Homo sapiens: one gene and its partners. The protein of the gene in region 2 purifies or fractionates together with the protein of the main gene of each other region. This does not show direct contact. Each region holds a gene or a part of one and is shown on either strand. Other genes may lie near its edges. The genes, in order: SRFBP1, PRPF38B, KNOP1 and ODF2.

Region 1 (4,272 bases), on a different chromosome or scaffold from region 2:
AGACAGTGTGGTGATTCCTCAAGGATCTAGCAATAGAAATACCATTTGACCCAGCAATCCCATTATTGGCTATATACCTAAGGATTATAAATCATTCTACTACAAAGGCACATGCACATGTATGTTTATTGTGGCACTGTTTACAACAGCAAAGACTTTGAACCAACCCAAATGCCCATCAATGATAGACTGGATAATGAAAATGCGGCACATATACACCATGGAATACTATGCAGCCATAAAAAATGATGAGTTCATGTCCTTTGCAGGGACATGGATGATGCTGGAAACCATCATTCTCTGCAAAGCAACACAAGAACAGAAAACCAAACACTGCATGTTCTCACTCATAAGTTTGAGTTGAACAATGAGAACACATGGACACAGGGAAGGGAACATCACACACCAAGGCCTGTCGGGTGGGGGGAAAGGGGGAGGGATAGCATTAGGAGAAATACCTAATGTAGACGACAGGTTAATGGGTGCAGTAAACCACCATGGCACATGTATACCTATGTAACAAACTTGCACGTTCTGCACATGTACCCCAGAACTTAAAGTATACATATAAAAAAAAAAGATTAAAGTTTGAGAAGAGTCAATGTAAGTAGTTGGGAAGCTAGTACAGTAGCTGTACTAGGATTCTAGTGGTGATGGAAAAGAATTGAAAAGATTGAAAGCGAATTCAAATTATTTTTCAGATACATTTCCTCCTTGAAGAAGTTAATTCATTTCTTCTGCCTATTTTCTGAGATGGTTTCTTTTAATTTCTATGAGGTATTTCCTATTAAGGGCATTAGCCCTTTGTCATATCTGCTGTATTTTTTTTTTCTAGTTGGTTGTCATTTCTTTTCTTTGGTAGGTTATTCAATTTTTATGTAGATAAATCTCTCTTTCCTTTTGTGGGTTTTTTTTCCCACTAATTTTAAATTATAATATCCTCCATCATCTCCACTTTTTTCTGTCCTTTTTATCTCCTTCACATTAGAACACACTAGACTTCAGTGGTGGATGTGTGTAGTTCCTGCTTTCACAAATTCATGTAATCACCTAGTAAACATATGTGCTACACATGATAGACACATAAACACAGGAAGACAGAAACAGTTACATAAGTGTTTCCAGAGGAGAAAGCAATCTGGGTGCACAAAGAACAGACACCTAACCCAGACCGAGAGGAGTTAATGAAGGTTTCCTAAAGGTCAAATTTTAACTGTTTTGAAGAAGAACAAAAGTTAGCTAAGTGTGAAAAGAGTCTTTAATGACTCATCCCCTGTCATTTCCATCATCAAAGTCATTACAAAATTTGATATGAAGCTCCCTGGGGTTGAAATCCCAGGGACATTACTCTGATCTTTCATACATCACAGGTAACCTAATGCAAAATAGCCCACCAAACGCTTTCTGGCACAAAGCACAAGCTTAATGTATGTTTATGAGTAAATAGTAACTACTTTCAGCTTCCCTCTTCAGCATATCCTGTACTCCACTGTCAACTGAAATCCTGACTCGTTAATCTGGCAGCAGAGAATATATTTCAGTTTTATTTCCTTCTTCATCTCACAAGTTCCCATCAGTGAAGAGTTACTTATCCCTGTATTACCCACGGGTTCTTCTGCTACTAGCCCTTTCCTGCTTATACCAGTCCCTCTGCCTGGAATGACTTCTTCCCCTTTCCTGAATCACTGACTGCAATTCCTGTGCAAGATCCCTAAAGACCAAGGACAAGTATCACCCATTTCATTTTGCCGCCTTTGGAAACTTTTCTGCATTACTAGGTTTTGGAGGCATTCTTCACACATTGTTCTGTAACACAGGTGAGTGTTGCTTAGCTCTCTTACTTGAGTATAGGTTACTAGAAAATATGAAATATCCCTTACACTACTGTGTGTAATCTAAACAGTGACTTGCTCATAAACGGGATAAAGAATTTCCTTTCTGTATCTAACTGTGAGGTCCTTACTCGATCCTTATGTTTCCAGCTTACTTTAAGACTTTGGATGACATTATTTTGTTGAATAGAAGCAGAAACCAGAGGGGGATAAGTGGTAGAAATGGTATTTTGTCGACACCGCACACTATGGAAGTGACGGTGGTGAGAACAAATGTCTGATGAGAATGGACTGAAAAAGCAGAAAAAAGAATTGAGGATAGCAAGTATAAACAGCTCTTTATTGAAGTTCTGCTGTAAACGGAAGCAAAGAAATAGGACACTAACTGGAAGAGGAAACGAAGTACTGAGCATACAGTCTCATTCAAGACCACCAATTTCTTAGAAGCTACAGCTCTTACTTTCTCTCTTTCATTTTCGACAGGCAATAAAGAGCAGGTAATGTGTACTGAAAGTTTATTAAGGGTCAGGCACTTGCAAATACTTTACGTATCTCAGTTAATCTCACAACCCTGGGACGAACTATCTTGAGTTCCGCTTTACAGACGAGAATATTGAACGTACAGGCTAAAGGTTCTTCCCAAAGTCCCACAGACATAAATTCGTGGGGCCTGACACATGTCTCTCACTTTAGTCACCTGGAGACCGAAAAGGGAAATTACCGGTTGCCAAACTCCAAGTTGCGGGAAACCCGCCTGGGCCCACCACGAAAGTTCCTCCAACCGCACCCTCTATGCCCGCCTCCGACCACGCGTCTCAAAAGAGCTGGTTTTGAGGACCCTTAAAGTCAGCCCCATAGGTTCCTCGGCGCTCACCTCGTTATTGAGGTTCAGAGTTCCCGGCTGAGCCATGGTAGATGAAGGAATATGATCCGCCGCTGCCTGCACGTGAACCGGTCTCTCAGACCGCGGCTGCGTCGCCACGCCCCTCAACGGAAGCCTCTTCTGTCCAAAACTCATCCGCCTTCTGCTCTAGCTGCCGCCTGGGAACAAGAAACATTGACGCTTGGAAGGGAAAACCGGAACTGAGACAGAACAACTACCGGCGCAGAGGGCTACGCAACGGAATTGCGCGTTCCTATGGAAACCAGACGGGGGCTGGTAGCTGGGCAACGTCTAGTTTTTCAAGATTCGGTTTGTGTGTGTGTGTGTGTGTGTGTGTGTGTGTGTGTGTGTGTGTGTGTGTTCCCTTGGTACACTGCGCTCGCATTGTACCGGCCTTGGTTTTTCTCTCTAATGGCTAGGGGGGCGCTGAACGGCGGTGAAAGAGCTCTTCTGAAATGATCACTTGAATGAACGATTTTTTGCTTCCATTTTTTTAAATCTAGTATTTGTGAAGATTTCTGCTTTTCTAACAAGCACACCTTTTTAAATCCTCGCAGTTTTTTGTTACAACCTGACATTATAGCTGAGGTGCGGACATTTTTTTCCTGCACACTATAGAAGGGTTTAAATTTAGGGAATAAACATTTGAAGCAAAACCAGGATACACATTTGGTACTGCCTGTGGGAATGGCTGTTTATTAGCCGGCAAGCATAGGAGACGTAAGGGAGTGTGTTTGAATTAGGTAATATATAATTGTCAACACCTTCTAGTATTGACCATTAAAATGTGTCAAATGGTGGTCCAAGAGCTTTACATAAATTAGCTCCAAATCTCCACAGAAATCCAACAAGATAGAAATTATTTTCCTTTTATTAATATTATTTTGTTAGAGACCCAGTCTCTCTTTGTCATCCAGGCTGGTGTGCAGTGGCACAGTCATAGCTCACTGCAGCCTCAAACTCTTGGGCTCAAGCCATCCTCTCACCTCAGCCTTCCAAATAACTAGGACTACAGGAGTGAGCCACCCTACTCTGCTCTGAACTATTATTTTACAGATGTGGAAAGTGACTTCAGAGGCACCAAGTGCCTCGCCCAGAGTCACTTGCCTGGGACTGTCCACTGCTACAGGACTTCAAGTCCAGCTACATAATACCTGGGGTACAGTGCAAAATGAAAATCCAGGCCCCTTTATTCAAAATGCAGGAAAAACGTTTCTTCCGGCGGAGGGTGGTGGCTCATGCCTGTAATCCCAGTACTTTAGGAAGCCTAGGCGGGCGGATCACCTGAGGTCGGGAGTTCGAGACCAGCCTGACCAACGTGGAGAAACCCCGTCTCTACTAAAAATACAAAATTAGCCGACCGTGGTGACGCATGCTTGTAATCCCAGCTACTCGGGAGGCTGAGGCAGGAGAATCACTTGAACCTGGGAGGCGGAGGTTGCCGTGAGCCAAGATCACTCCAGACTGGGCAACAAGAGTGAAACTTCGTCTCAAAAAAAAAAAAAAGTTTCTTCCATAGCGTCTCTTGACTCATCATGGTGTTTGTTAATTTACTAT
Region 2 (6,008 bases):
ACCACCACACCCGGCTAATTTTTGTATTTTTATTAGAAACGGGGTTTCACTGTGTTAGCCAGGCTGGTCTCGAACTCCTGACCTTGTGATCTGCCCGCCTTGGCCTCCCAAAGTGCTGGGATTACAGGCATGAGCCACCACACCCGGCCCGTATTTTCCACTTTTTAGTAGACATGGGGTTTCAGCATGTTGGCCAGGCTGGTCTCAAACTCCTGACCTCAGGTGACCTACTGGCCTCGGACTCCCAAAGTGCTGGGATTACAGATGTGAGCCACTGCACCTAGTGGGGTACTTTTTTTTAGACAGGATGGTAGCTTTCATCAGATTACTAAAAAGTGGGCCCAGAACTCAAAACAACCATTGCCTTAGAGGAACTGAGGAACTAAATCAGAGTTAGGAGATAAAAACAGGGCAATATTAAAATGAACACTTTATATTAAAAGTTTAAGATTGATGATATACTCGCCCATGTATAGAATTTAATTGCAAATTGAACATTAAAAACAGGCAAAAGATTTTAATACATGGAAAGGTGAAATCATTCCAGTAAGTACAAAAACTGGATGGAGGATGCTTATTAAGCTGTATTAAAAATTTTTTTAAATTATACTTTAAGTTCAGATACATGTGCAGAACGTGCCGGTTTGTTACCTAGATATACATGTACCTTGGTGGTGAGCTGCACCCATCAACCTGTCATCTACATTAGGTATTTCTCCTAATATTATCCCTCCCCTAGTCCCCCACCCCACAACAGGCCCCGGCGTGTGATGTTCGTGTCCAAATGTTCTCATGTTTCAAGAAATGTGAGATGTCTTTCATAGCCACTTGTTTTCCCAGTTTCTTAGGAAGCCACTCTCCAAATAAATCATGCATATATATAGCAATAACTAGCACAATTTACATGTTCTCACACCTACCATAATTTTCCTCAAAAGCAAACATATTTAAAAATCGTAAGAAGGGACTGGAGTGGTGGCTCACACCTGTAATCACAGCGCTTTGGGAGGCTGAGGTGGGTGGATCACTTGAGGCCAGGAGTTCAAGACCAGCCTGGGCAACATGGCGAAATCCCAACCCTACCAAAAATACAAATTAGCCGGGTGTGCTAGCATGCACCTGTGGTCCCAGCTACTTAGGAGGCCAAGTTCGGAGGATCACTTGAGCCAGGGAAGTGGAGGCTGCAGTGAGCAGAGATTGCACCACTGCACTCCAGTCTGGGTGACAGAGCCAGGCCCGTCTCAAAACAAAAACAAACTAAAAACCCACAAGAAATCAAATGTAGTGACGATCATCGAACTGTCAATCGAGGTGATAGTTCTTTCACCTCCATGTGAAGTAATTTAAATTCTTTCCACATTTTACTTAAAATAGTCAGATAAAACATTTCACATGGAACCATATCCAAAGTAGTAGCTCCATAATTTAGGTATGCTAAAAGTAGATTTTCAACACAAGACAAATTTAGTGGCTTTCATATTATACAATAGGTTTTTCTAACTTCTGGGTGTCTATAGCACTAATTCACTTGATGCTCAATTTAAAAGACAAAGGAATTTTCTTAAAAAAGAAAAAAGCATATCATTTTTAGAAGAATTCATTTAATGAGATTTTTCTAAAATGGAGTGGTACATATGTTAAGCCCACATATGGAGGACTCTTGCAAGTGTACTCGTTTGCTCCATTTAACATTTTTGCAAGGTGGCTTCTGAGTGCGCATTAGTTGGCCAGTATAACCAGTGAGATAAAACAAACCTCAATGTGCGTGCCAGGTTCACTACACTGTCAGAATACTGAGTTTTAGCCCTAGCACTGACATCATTACTTTGGGCCTCTATTTTCTTTTCTAAAAAGAATTGGGTGAATTATCTTAAAGAATTTCAAGTCCAAATTTTAAAAAATGCTAACATATTGTCCAAGTAAAAGGTATCCCAATAAACGTCTTTGACATGGAACAAAGTAATCAAATGACACATGTAACAACCACTGACAAAGGGAACTGCCATTATCAAGTATTCTAATAAAGATTATTGATTACCACATGCCCAATCCCAGTCTATGCATTTCTCCAAAATTCACTTGTCATCTGGGCACTAAGACATCCCTGTACACAAAGTGTGACTCTACTGACGTTTCATCAATTTCCACAATATAAATATGCTAAAAAAATTTAACAAATGGGGGAAAAGCCAAGACCCAGGATAAAGGATTTAATCCAGTATTTATTCCACACTCATGATGGTTCTGTAATCAGAATACAAGTTGTAAGAACAATCTATCAAATAATTTGCTGATAGTCTTAAATAATGCAGCACAGCATTACTTTTAATACTCCTCTGTTCTAGATTAAGTTTAAAAACTCAAACAGCAATCTCCATTATCAATAAAAAAAGTTCTGAATTTTAAAAAAAGGACACTATATCAAGCTGTTTCATAATTTAAGGATTTTCCATTTATAAAAATGCTTTGGAAGCTTGAGGCTTGAATCTGTTTCTCTACTCATCTGCCCCACCCTCTCCCCATTACATGTTAGTATAGGGTTCTGCAAGAATGCTAGGCTTTAGACATTAATTTTTTTCTTTAATATAGTACTTTAAAATCTGAGAAAGAATTCAAGAAAAAAAGATTACATGTCATGTATTTTTTCAAATAAAAAAGGAAAACTAAGTGAATAAATTTTAGGCATACTAAGTGTCCCTTTGAGGTAGAATGCTAAAAGGACTTTTGATGAAATCACAGCCTAAAAACCTCTGCATCAGAAACTAACTTCTCATAAATTCTCTCTAAAGGTAACTGTGGAGAATATTAAGTGTAACATATTAACAAGAGCCTTCCAAGATAATATACAGTAGACAAGAATGTTAATCCTACAATGCTGCCTTCTTGTACATTGGCAGCACATACTTCTCCTATAATAGACATCCAAGATCCATTCTCAAAGTCTTTAGCATTCTATTACGAAAAGCACAGCCATGCTAACTTCAGTACACAAACCATAATCCCACACCTACAAAACAAAAATAGATTAGTGGCAGTTTATTGCCTTATACAAATTTAACCAACATGGCAACCATGCCAAAGGAATTAAAACATTTTCAGGACATATGTACAGACTGTACATTTCAAAAACAAACAATAAAAATGCAAGAACAATCTGTGCATCATGTATCAAACTTAACAATTGGGTGAAAACACCAATGCAATAAATGGAATTACAAAGGCACTTCCCTACACGAAAGAGGAAATGAAAATGCAGCCTACAGGGAGAGCTTGAGGAGTGCGAACTACTGCACAATCTCAACGTGGGGGAAAAAAGCAGATTTAATCATTTATAGGATTCAATGTGATCCACTTTTACAAAATATTTTCACACAGTCTCATCTTTGTTTTTATGCTGTTTTTCTTGGCTCTCTTGTTCTATACTTTGGCTCCTTCGACGATCATGTTTGTCTGACTGGTCCTTACTATCACTGTGATCTCGTTTGTGGGAACGTTCTTTGCTTCTACTACGCTTTCTAGATTTTTCTTTGCTGGGACTATGTTCCCGTTTTTTTGATTTTTCAACACTGTCAGTTCTTCCTTGACTGCCACTTCGACTTCGTTTATTTGATTTTTCTTTACTTTCATTTTTATGTTTACTTGATTTCTCTTTGCTTCTACTTCTACTTCGTTTCCCTGCATTTCTACTTCGACTCCTACTTCTGTGTTTCCTTTCTCTGCTTCTGCTTCTACTGTGTTTTTTCTCTTTCTTGGAATCTCTTTTGTCATCTCTGTGCCGCCTATCATCTTTGTCTTCTTTATGTTTCTTCTCTTCTACCTCTCCCCTACTTCTCTGTTCCTTGGACCTTTCTCTTGATCGCTCTCTCTCTTTTTCTCGTTCATTTCCTCTTTCCTTATCATAGTCACGATCTCGTCTTCTACCTCTCTCATTTTCTTTCTCTCTTTCTCGATCCCTGTCCCTTCTATCCCCTTTCCTATCACGACTTCGACTGCGACTTCTATGCCTTTCCCTACTTCTGCTGCGCCTGCGTTCTAACCCCCGGTCAATACTTCGGGATCTTCGCCGTTCTTTCTCCCTTTCTTTGGCTTCACGCTCTAGTCGCTGGCGTTCTTTCTCTCTTTCTAATTCTCTGTCAAAACTAGAAGACCCATGGCCCTCCCGATGATGACTTCTACTTCTTGACCTTCTTGGGGACCTCCGTGGACTCAGAGATCTCCTTGGAGACCTAAGGAAGGCGGAGGGAGAAAGAAAATTTCAATGAATAAAACATATGCAATTCTTTTCACAGTAAAACTTTCAACAGCATTATTTATTCATGTCCTCAAGCTTAAGGCCATGTCAAGAATCATTAAAGCAAAAAATTTTATTGTTCTCATTTACAGATGCATAATTTTATAGAAAAAGCCCTGAAAGGAAGAAAATAATCTTTGGGGGGTAAAAGTGACAAACTAATAAAATGAACAGTAAAAACAAATTCCTAAGAACTTGCTATTTCTCAGAACCATTAATTTTGTATAAAGCATATATGAAAAATAAGCATAATTCAAGAGTGACATTACCTTGAACGTCTGCGTTCAACATGTCTGTCTATTTCCTCAGCACCTTCCTTCCCATCTTTCTTGATTTTTCTAGGTCGGGTTTTAATCTGTTGATCAATATTCTTTTGAACTGGAACTGGAATTCTTGGAAACAAGGTAGAAAACCACTCCAGTTTTGTGAGAAAAGATCGTAGCATTTCTCCAATGGTCATTACACAGCCTCCACCAGCCTTCACATCTAGGTCCTACAGAAACACAAAAGATACCCTAGCCGTCAAAAAAAGTATTTCCATATATACATGAATATTATAAAAATATTACCATCTTTGGAATCTCAATACAAAAAAAACTAACAGAAAAATTTTATTTTCATATCCTGATCTGACAATGAATGAACAGAAATATTTGGGCTTAGTGTGTGCATGCAAGTGAGAACAAACCCTGCAGCCTCACAGGCATAAAGGGAACTGATCTCACTCAGTTAACAATATGAAAAAGCCCCTTACATTTCTAAACTATGCGGAACGATTGACTTAAATTTACATTCCACATACCTACTATGTATTTATTTCTGTGGACATATTTGCACACATCATATACCTTGCACCATAACCTAGCTACATATGATCTACTTTAGATAATTCCTGTCTAAAGGTTATCTTTTAACAGCTCTAATATAAAATGAAGCCCTAATAAAACTGGAAGCAATAGCAAACCAACTGCCATGAAGCAGTGAGGTTTCTAATTTAGTTATGTAGAAAATAAATAAATGAACAAATAATTGGAAACGCATAATCCATGATGACCATTGTCTCTGAAAAGGGTCATTACCGCATGAAGGCCTTCTTGCTATGCCCTCTCACAGCTCAGGACATGTTAGTCAGCTATTGTCAGTCCCAAACCTATAGTGCAAGCACACAAGGAAAGTGAGATTTGTTATCTAAACAGGAAAACAAGAGCTAAAGGTAAAACTGCTTGCACTCACACACATTTAAGTGTTCAGATATACAGTATTTCCAAATATAATCGCTGCAGATATCTAAGGAAGAAAACAATAAGTTAGCTTAAATAGAGGACCTCAGATTTGTAAACACAATAAAAAACATAAAATAGAGGCATCCAGAAACAAAACCAATACAACACCAATTATGAAGAGGAACATGCTTTTTTAAAGACAGAAGGGAGAAGCACTTCAGTCTGAAAAACTGATCTAAAGATAAAAAGACCTTAAAGATTGTGATTTAAAACACGTTTTGCTTCTTCTGAGTGAAGTAACTCAGTTAACAGGCAAAAAAAAAAAAAAAAAAAAAGAGAAAAATAAAAATTCTCCATGTCTAAATGAGATTTTTTTTTTTTTTAGGTGTGCATGTAATAACAAAACACAATAGATTTCCATTAGAACCATCCTTTAATTCAATAAATTCTTTGGATGAACTCTGTAAATAGACTACTGACACATAGCACTCAAA
Region 3 (4,080 bases), on a different chromosome or scaffold from region 2:
CACCAGTCCCTGAGCCGTGGGGTAACCTTGTAGTCACTTTACCTGTCTGAGTCTCAGTTTCTTCATCCGTCAAATAGTTTAGTACTACTGTTTTGCGGGAGAATTGTGGAAGAGAAGGGATGGGAAGGGCTTTGCTGACTGAGATGTTTCTAGGTGGCAGGGCTGGGGGTGATGCCGTGGTCTGAGGTCTTTTCTGGACTTTGTCATGGTCTCACCCTGGCTGGGTGCAGAGGCAGAGGCCATTCATTGTAAACTTGAACCTTAGCCAGCTCTGCCCTCTCCTGCAGGAAACAGACACGGACTTAGAGGTGGTGTTGGAAAAAAAAGGCAACATGGATGAGGCGCACATAGACCAGGTACAGCCCAGACCCTCCTCAGGCCCCTCCCGCTGCCTCCTGCCACCCTTGGAGTCTCACTTGCTGCCTGCCAGGCTGGCTAGGTGATCCTGGTCTCAGGGGCACCAGGGACTCCAGAGGCCACTGGGCCAGCTGCCAACGCACACCTCCCGGGCCGGGAATGCGTGCTTTCCCCATCCTCATGCTGGGGGCCCTTCCGGCTGCCGTGGCCATGGCCGAGAGGCCCGACTGGCCATTCCCTGTTACTTGCTGCAGGATGTGGGGGACATGTCCCTAAGACCCTGCAGCTGGGCAGGTGACACATGCTGCCACCCCCTGGGCTAATTCAGGAGCATTTAGAGGAGAAGTTTTGTTGTGAATCAGCTTCCGCTTCTGTCGTTCCCATATCCCGTGGCAAATGCATCCCTGTGGGAAGTGGACTTTCTGGCCTTGGGGATTTTTTTTTTTTTTTTTTTTTTTTGAGACGGAGTCTCACTCTGTCCCCCAGGCTGGAGTGCCGTGGCGTGATCTTGGCTCACTGCAAGCTCTTAAGCCTCAGTTTCTAGGAAAATTCATTCTTAAGAGGCTAAAGAGGATAAATGAGCCTGCCCAGTGTAGGCCAAGGGGCGCAGCCCTTGAGATGCTAAGAGAATACTTATGATAGCAGCTTCCCATTGTTTGTAGCAGAGTCAAGCTGTGTTAGTTCCTCCCACGTTCCGTTCCCCCAGCCCCGTCTCTGTCCTGGGTTTTAAGCTTGAAAGAAGATCTCTGTCTGACGGCCCTCTTCTGTCATCCTTCTTGCTCAGGTGAGGCGAAAGGCCTTGCAAGAAGAGATCGATCGCGAGTCAGGCAAAACGGAAGCTTCTGAAACCAGGAAGTGGACGGTAAGTTTGGGGCTAGGGCTCTGCGAGGAGGTGGCACGCTCGGCCTCCCGACGCTTCCCCTCGCCTCCAGCATGAGGAGTGGAGCAGGAGAACCAAGTATGTCCAGGCCCCAGAGGCAGCCCTAGCCTGCAGCAGGCTCCCTCCACAGCAGAATTTGTCCTGAGCTAATTTCCTTCCTTCTGAAAAGGGCGCTTGCCTCCCTCCTAGAGAGCTGGCCCGGTGAGATAAGCTGCCTGAACCTTTGTCTCAGCCCTGGACTGGTGGGGTGTCCTAAGGATTAATCACTGAGGACACATTCCAGCGAGCTCTTGCCAGTGGTGGACGATGCCTTTGGAGGGCTGCTAGGAACAGGGACAAGAGGCAGAGGGGAGGGAGTGGTCGCGGCCCCTCTCAGGCCTGGTTTTCAGATCCAGTCTGACTGGGAAATGTCCAAGCCGGGCCTGAGAAGATCTCTCAGGAGGGAGGAGGGTGCGAGGATCATGAGGCTGGAGAGTGTGAGGTTGTCAGGCTGGGGCCCTGGCGGAGTTCAGTGGGGGCTCTGTGCTGGGTGCTGGACATGGAGCAGATGAAGCCCATGTGATCCCCATCATCGCGCTCACGGTCTAGAGGCCAGAGCGGGGTGAGCATGGCAGGGAAATGGTTAGCAAACAAGGAAAGGAAGATCAGTTGAGGTGGCAGTAGCGGTCAGGAGAAAGAAACAGAACAGTGAGCTGGAGAGGGGCTGCAACAGATGGGCGAGGGCTGGGAGGTGGCAGCGCTTGTCCAGAGATGTTCAGGGTGCAGAGGCCCCAGCCCTCAGGAGACAGGGGGAAGAGCGTTTCAGTGAGGCCAGTGGCCGGTGCAGACCCCTAAGGTAGGAAAGGGCCTGGAGTGATCTGTAGGGAAGGCCAGTGAGGCGGCACTGCGGCTGGAATGAGGGACGAGAGGGCTACAGGCCACAGGCCTCGGCCTCAGCGGCCATGATAGAGAGCTGGCCTGGGATCTGGCTAAGTGGGATTGGCTGGAGGGCATTGACTCGGCAAGCGGGAAGACCTGGTAGAAGGCTCAGCCTGCAGGCCGCAGCCTGAGGATGGTGGCAGAGGATAGAGAGAGAAAACAGCTTTGTGATTTACTTTGGAGGCACAGCTGGCAGGACTTGTTCATAGATTGGATTTTGGGGAGACGAGAAGAAAGGTCTGGGTGACCAGCGATGCTGGCCTTCAGGCTCCGTCAGAGCATTCAGAAAAGAACAGTCGATTCGGATCAAAAGATCTGATTTCACTACTGGCTCTGCCACTGTCTAGTGGTGGGACTCTGGCCAGGTACCTTCCCCTGAGCCTGTAAAATGGGACTCGTACCCTGGCCTGGTGGGGTATGGAGTGGGGCTTTGTTATGGGTCCTGCCTTGGGGTGCCCTTTCTCTCCATGCCACCCTGCTGAGCTGAGCCGAGCTGATGGGACATCCAGCTTGAATAGGGAGGGCAAGAAAAAAGGCAGTGTGATTCGGAGCCGATGTCCCGGGGGGCTGTCCCTGGAAGGACCTGACGGCAGGAGAGTGATCCTGGGGCACAGGGGCTGGGACATGCCATGCCACTGAGACGTGGTGAAGTGGTCCTCTGGGTGGGCAGCAGCCGTTGGAAGTGCTGGTTCACGCAGGACCAGCTAGCAGTCTCCTGCTCTCCCCAAAACCCATGTGGGGTGGTCATAGATGGCCTCTCACTCTAGAAACTGCAGGGCAGGGGAGCTGTCATTATTCCTGCATCTGGGCCACCATGAAGCTGGGAGAATGTGTCACCGGTTCACTCAGGGCAGCTGTAGTGACAACTGGTTCTTATTTTCCCAAAGCCAACCCAGAAATAAGTGCTGGGCTGGCCTCTGGCTTGTGGGCGGGAAGTTCCCAGGCAGCGTCGATGTCAGCAGTCTGGTTGGGGTAGGGGGAGAGGAGTGGCCAGTCACTGAGGGCTTGAGGTGTGCCATGCATCGTGCACTGGGCTTTTGGTGTCAAATCTGACGTATGTCTCACTGAAGCCCTGTGAGGGGGATGTTATCACCCCACCTTAGAGATGAGGGCACCAAGGCTTAGAGAGGTTAGGGGACTTGAGCAGGGTCACCCAGGGGAGGCTTCCTCCCGGGGCTGCCTGACTTCCGAGTCACAGTCTTCTTGGGAGGTGAGTTTCTTTCCTCTCCCACCGACCTGGGAGAAGGGGGTCTGGAGGGCTCTCCTGCATTTTCTTGCACATGGGTGGTAGCGCACTCTGGCTGGAATGGGGACCCCCGAGTTCTTGGGCTTGGCTCAGTCTGACTTGGCTGTGTGACCTTTTACCCCTGTGGGCCCGCACCCGTTCCCGCCATAAAACAGTGCTTCTGAGAAGCACACTTCAGATTCCCACTCGCCCTCTCCCACCCTCCAATTCACCCAAACGTTAGGCTGCTGGGTGAGTGCGCCCGGCTGCTGGGCTGTGGGGTGCCCTGTGTTGCAGGGGAGGTGCGCCCTGTGGGGAGGTGGGGGAGGTGTGCTGTCTTGTGAGATGCATGGTGGGGTGAGGTGCGCTGTGTAGGGAGGTGGGGGGAGGTGCGCTGTATAGGGAGTGGGGGAAGTGCTATGTAGGGAGGTGGGGGAGTGTGCTGTGTAGGGAGGTGGGGGGAGTGCGATGTGTAGGGTGGTGGGGGGAGTGCACTGTGTAGCGTGGTTAGGGGAGGTGCGCTTTGTAGGATGGTAGGGGGAGAGTGTGCTGTGTAGCGTGGTGGGAGGAGGTGCGCCATGTGCGCCGTGTAGGGAGGTGGGGGGAGTGCTCTGTGTAGGGTCGTGGGGGGAGTGTGCTCTGTAGAGTGGTGGGGGAGTGTGCTGTGTAGGGAGGTGGGGGAGGGGAGGTGCACTGTGTA
Region 4 (4,428 bases), on a different chromosome or scaffold from region 2:
CCTCCCGGGGCAGGCAACTGAAGCCCGGGGCAACCCTGCAGAGGAGGCCTGAAGGCCTGCAGACGCAGGCTGAGGGACCAGGCAGGAAATCCACCTGGGTGCTCCTGCACATCCTCAGGGTAGTAGCTATCCCAGCCCCCTACCTCCCTCACCTCAGACTTCAGACAACCAACCGCATTCATTAGACTATCAATCTTCTTATCATAACGGTTCATTTTACAGTGACCTGAGTCATCATCTTCTGTAGAGAGGTCACTTAACCGCATCACTGAGACCAGCTTTTCTGAAGATGGTGGCGTGATCTCCAGGCAATGAGGTGGATTCTGATGTAGAGGAGGGAGAAACACATGAACTCAGAAGGCAGAACCTTGACCACGAGTTCCACCACTGGAGGCTTATTTACTGATTAGACGGGAAAAGCTGTAACAGCTAACTCGGGGACCCCAGGAAGAACATACTCTGAACCCTTGTGATGGAACATTACCTATCCATGTTTAAATGATGGTTTTGGAGAATTCCCAACATCAAAATTAAAAGCTTGGGCTACAATGTTAAGTTTAAAATAAAGAACATAGGCTGGATACCCTGTAAAACCAGTATATTGGGAGGCCGAGGCGGGAAGCCAAAACCAGCCTCAGCAACATAGCGAGACCTTGTCTCTATAAAAGTAAAAGAATTAGCTAGCGCTGGGCATGGTGGCTCACATCTGCAATCCCAGCGCTTTGGGAGGCTGAGGCGGGTGGATGACCAGAGGTCAGGAGTTTGAGACCAGCCTGACCAACACGGTGAAACCCCGTCTCTACTAAAAACACAAACTTAGCTGGACATGGTGGTGCATGCCTGTAATCTCAGCTATTCAGGAGGCTAAGGCTGGAGGATCGCTTGAACCCGGGAGGTAGAGGTTGCAGTGAGCCAAGATTGCGCCATTGCACTCCAGCCTGGGCAACAGAACGAAACTCCTTCTAAAAAAAAAAATCAGGTGGGTGTAGTGGCACATGCCTGTGATCTCAACTAATCAGGAGGCTGAGGCAGGGGATTCCTTGAGTCCAGGAGTTCAAGGCTGCAGTGAGCTATGATAGCACCACTGCATGCCAGCCTGGGTGACAGAGCGAAACCCTGTCTCTAAAAATAACAATACTCATAAAGAAATAATATAACAAATCAGCAAAAACATTAATAATACCCAAAGTTGGCAAAAGTTTAGGGCAGTACATTTTTTTATACCTAGGGTAGAAATGAAATATGTCAAAAGTCTTTTAAATGAATATGAATAGCTGATAGTGGATTAGTTACAAAGGTAGATGAATCTGCTGAAAAGGTATTGTAGAAACAAGTGGGTAAATTGGAAAAAGGACCAGATATTGTATGATATTAAGAAATGCTCTTAGGAGTAATCAGTTATTTTGATGATGTAGAAAAATATTATAAATGCACATGGTACAATACCTGGAAAGTATTGTATTAAAAAAATACAATACTTTTTAAATACGTCAGTATAAAAAATATTTTAGGGCCAGGAGCGGTGGCTCATGCCTGTAATCCCAGCACTTTGGGAGGCCAAGGCGGGCGGATCACGAGGTCAGGAGATCGAGACACTGAAACCCCGTGTCTACTAAAAATACAAAAAAATTAGCCGGGCGTGGTAGCAGGTGCCTGTAGTCTCAGCTTTTTAAATATTTTTTTAAATATTTTAAAATGCATATATGCTTCAGGAAACTTTATGCAAAGCTGTAAACACTTTGCTTTTTTTTTTTTTTTTTTGAGACAGGGTCTCACTCCATCGCCTAGGCTGGAGTGCAGTAGTGCCATCTCGGCTCACTGCAACCTCCGCCTCCCAGGTTCAAGCAATTCTCCTGCCTCAGCCTCCCGACTAGCTGGGATAACAGGCACCTACCACCATGCCCAGCTGATTTTTGTATTTTTAGTAGAGGTGGGGTTTCACCATGTTGGCCAGGCTGGTCTCGAACTCCTGACCTCAGGTGATAAGCCCGTCTTGGCCTCCCAAAGTGCTGGGATTTCAGGTATGAGCCACCACATCCAGGTATGTATATTACTTTTAGAAGAAAAGAAGTTACTTTTAATACTTAAAATGACAAAAATAGGAAAATGTATAAACAGTCATGTGCCACGTAACATTTCAGTCAGCAATGGACTGCATATATGACAGTGGTCCCAAAACACCGTATTTTTACCGTACCTTTTCTATATTTACTATGTTTCAATATGCAAATACTTACCATTGTGTTAGTTGCCTACAGTATTCTGTACGGCATCATGCTGTAGAGGTCTGTAGCCTAGGAGCAATAGGCTATACCATACAGCCCAGGTGTGTAGCAGGCTTTACCAATCTCGGTTTGTGTAAGTACACTCCATGATGTTTGCACAATGATGAAAGTGCCTAACAACATGTTTCTCAGAATATATCCCCATTGTTAATTGATATATGACTATATATATATATATATATATATATATATATATATATATATATTTTTTTTTTTTTTTTTTTTTTTTTTTTTTTTTTTAATTGAGATGGAGTCTCGCTCTGTCACCCAGGCTGGAGTGCAGTGGTGCAATCTCGGCTCACTGCAAGCTCCGCCTCCCAGGTTCACGCCATTCTCCTGCCTCAGCCTCCCGAGTAGCTGAGACTACAGGTGCCCGCCACCATGCCCGGCTAATTTTTTGTACTTTTAGTAGAGACGGAGTTTCACTGTGTTAGCCAGGATGGTCTCGATCTCCTGACCTTGTGATCCGCCCGCCTCGGCCTCCCAAAGTGTTGGGATTACAGGCGTGAGCCACCACGCCCGGCCACATGACTATATATTTTTTAAAATGACAAATATATATATATATATATATATGGGAAAGTGTGACTACTTACTCCTTGTGATGGGGAGGGAGTGACATAGACAAAAGCCAGGGGCAGCTTCTAGGATGCTGGGTGATCGTTACACAGGTACCTTCAGCTTGTGAAAATTCATGGAGCAATACACTTCTGATGGGTGTACATCCCTGCACTTTTCCATTTTTTTTTTTTTTGAGATGGGGTCTCACTCTGTCAAGCAGCCTGGAGTGCAGTAGCACAACTTTGGTTCACTGCAACCTCTGCCTCCCAGGCTCAACCCATCCTTACACCTCAGCCTCCCAAGTAGCTGGGACCACAAGTGCACACCACCACACTGGGCTAATTTTTTGTATTTTTGGTAGAGATACGGTTTCGTCACATTGTCCAAGCTGGTCTCCAACTCCTGAGCTCAGGTGAACCGCCTGCCTTAGCCTCCCAAAGTGCTGGGATTACAGGCGTGAGACACCAGGCCCGGCCAGTCCTCTTTTCGTTTTTCTTTTCCGTTTTTTTTGTTTTTTTTTTGAGATGGAGACTCGCTTTGTTGCCCAGGCTGCAGTGCAGGGGCGCGATCTTGGCTCCCTGCAACCTCCGCCTCATGGGCTTAAGCAATTCTCTTGCCTCAGCCTTCTGTGTAGCTGATATTGGTGGCGCGACCACCACGCCAGGGTAATTTTTGTATTTTTAGTAGAGACGGGGTTTCGCCATGTTGGCTAGGCTGGTCTCAAACTCCTGATCTCAGTTGATTTGCCTGCCTCGGCCTCCCAAAGTGCTGGGATTACAGGAGTGAGCCATTGCTCCTGGGCCTGTACTTTTCAACAAGAAATTTTGAAACTTAATAGCAGCCAGAATTGAGTAGCTGATTATTTTTCTGTATTTTCAAATTTCCCTAAATAAAAATAGATCACTTTTTTTTTTTTTTTTGAGACGGAGTCTCGCTCTGTCGCCAGGCTGGAGTGCAGTGGTGCAATCTCAGCTCACTGCAACCTCCGCCTCCAGGGTTCAAGCAATTCTCCTGCCTCAGCCTCCCAAATGGCTGGGCCTACAGGAGCGTGCCACCATGCCCAGCTAATTTTTGTATTTTTAGTTGAGATGGGGTTTCACCACGTTGGCCAGGATGGTCTCAATCTCTTGACCTCATGATCCGCCTGCCTTGGCCTCCCAAAGTGCTGAGATTACAGGCGTGAGCCACCGCGCCCGGCTGATCACTTTTAGTAATAGAGGCAAGAAAAAAACCTAGACCTTCTTTCTCCCAAAGCTGATCTTATATTCCAGGAGTTGTAAGATATCAAACAAGAACCCCACATGCATACAGCAGCTTTTGGTCTTCATTTCCATATCTTCCTCAAACTTCCACCTCCAGGGGCTGTTCCCCTTCCGTCCATGAAGGACAGGGTTGAGTTAGGGCCTCTCAGGGCCACAGGAAGCCACTGGCAAGTGGAAAGGGGCAGACACAAGAATGAAAGCAGAAAAGACAGCTACTGTTTCAGGTGCTGAGAGAACCTGGGCAGGCCACCTCTCTGGGACCTTCCACCTCTAGGATTTGGCAATGGGGCTGGAAGTGGCATTATGCTTTTCAGAGGGGA

Evidence for each region.
Region 1: the proteins of PRPF38B (region 2) and SRFBP1 purify together in Homo sapiens (co-immunoprecipitation; one large-scale study listed by IntAct). This does not show direct contact.
Region 3: the proteins of PRPF38B (region 2) and KNOP1 purify together in Homo sapiens (affinity purification with mass spectrometry, with the first as the bait; one large-scale study listed by BioGRID). This does not show direct contact.
Region 4: the proteins of PRPF38B (region 2) and ODF2 purify together in Homo sapiens (co-immunoprecipitation; one large-scale study listed by IntAct). This does not show direct contact.

The regions. Positions count from the first base shown.
Region 1 is NC_000005.10:121,960,503-121,964,774, reverse strand, and holds the start of SRFBP1 (serum response factor-binding protein 1), read right to left. Parts: upstream 2,801-4,272; 5' UTR 2,743-2,800; coding exon 2,707-2,742; intron 1-2,706. UniProt on the Homo sapiens protein: May be involved in regulating transcriptional activation of cardiac genes during the aging process. May play a role in biosynthesis and/or processing of SLC2A4 in adipose cells.
Region 2 is NC_000001.11:108,697,380-108,703,387, reverse strand, and holds the end of PRPF38B (pre-mRNA-splicing factor 38B), read right to left. Parts: intron 5,828-6,008; exon of another isoform or gene 5,579-5,827; coding exon of another isoform or gene 5,539-5,578; exon of another isoform or gene 5,531-5,538; coding exon of another isoform or gene 5,525-5,530; exon of another isoform or gene 5,371-5,524; intron 4,785-5,370; coding exon 4,561-4,784; intron 4,227-4,560; coding exon 3,368-4,226; 3' UTR 460-3,367; downstream 1-459. UniProt on the Homo sapiens protein: May be required for pre-mRNA splicing.
Region 3 is NC_000016.10:19,707,648-19,711,727, reverse strand, and holds part of KNOP1 (lysine-rich nucleolar protein 1), read left to right. Parts: intron 1-287; coding exon 288-356; intron 357-1,141; coding exon 1,142-1,219; intron 1,220-4,080.
Region 4 is NC_000009.12:128,465,078-128,469,505, reverse strand, and holds part of ODF2 (outer dense fiber protein 2), read right to left. Parts: intron 582-4,428; exon of another isoform or gene 324-581; coding exon 153-323; intron 1-152. UniProt on the Homo sapiens protein: Seems to be a major component of sperm tail outer dense fibers (ODF).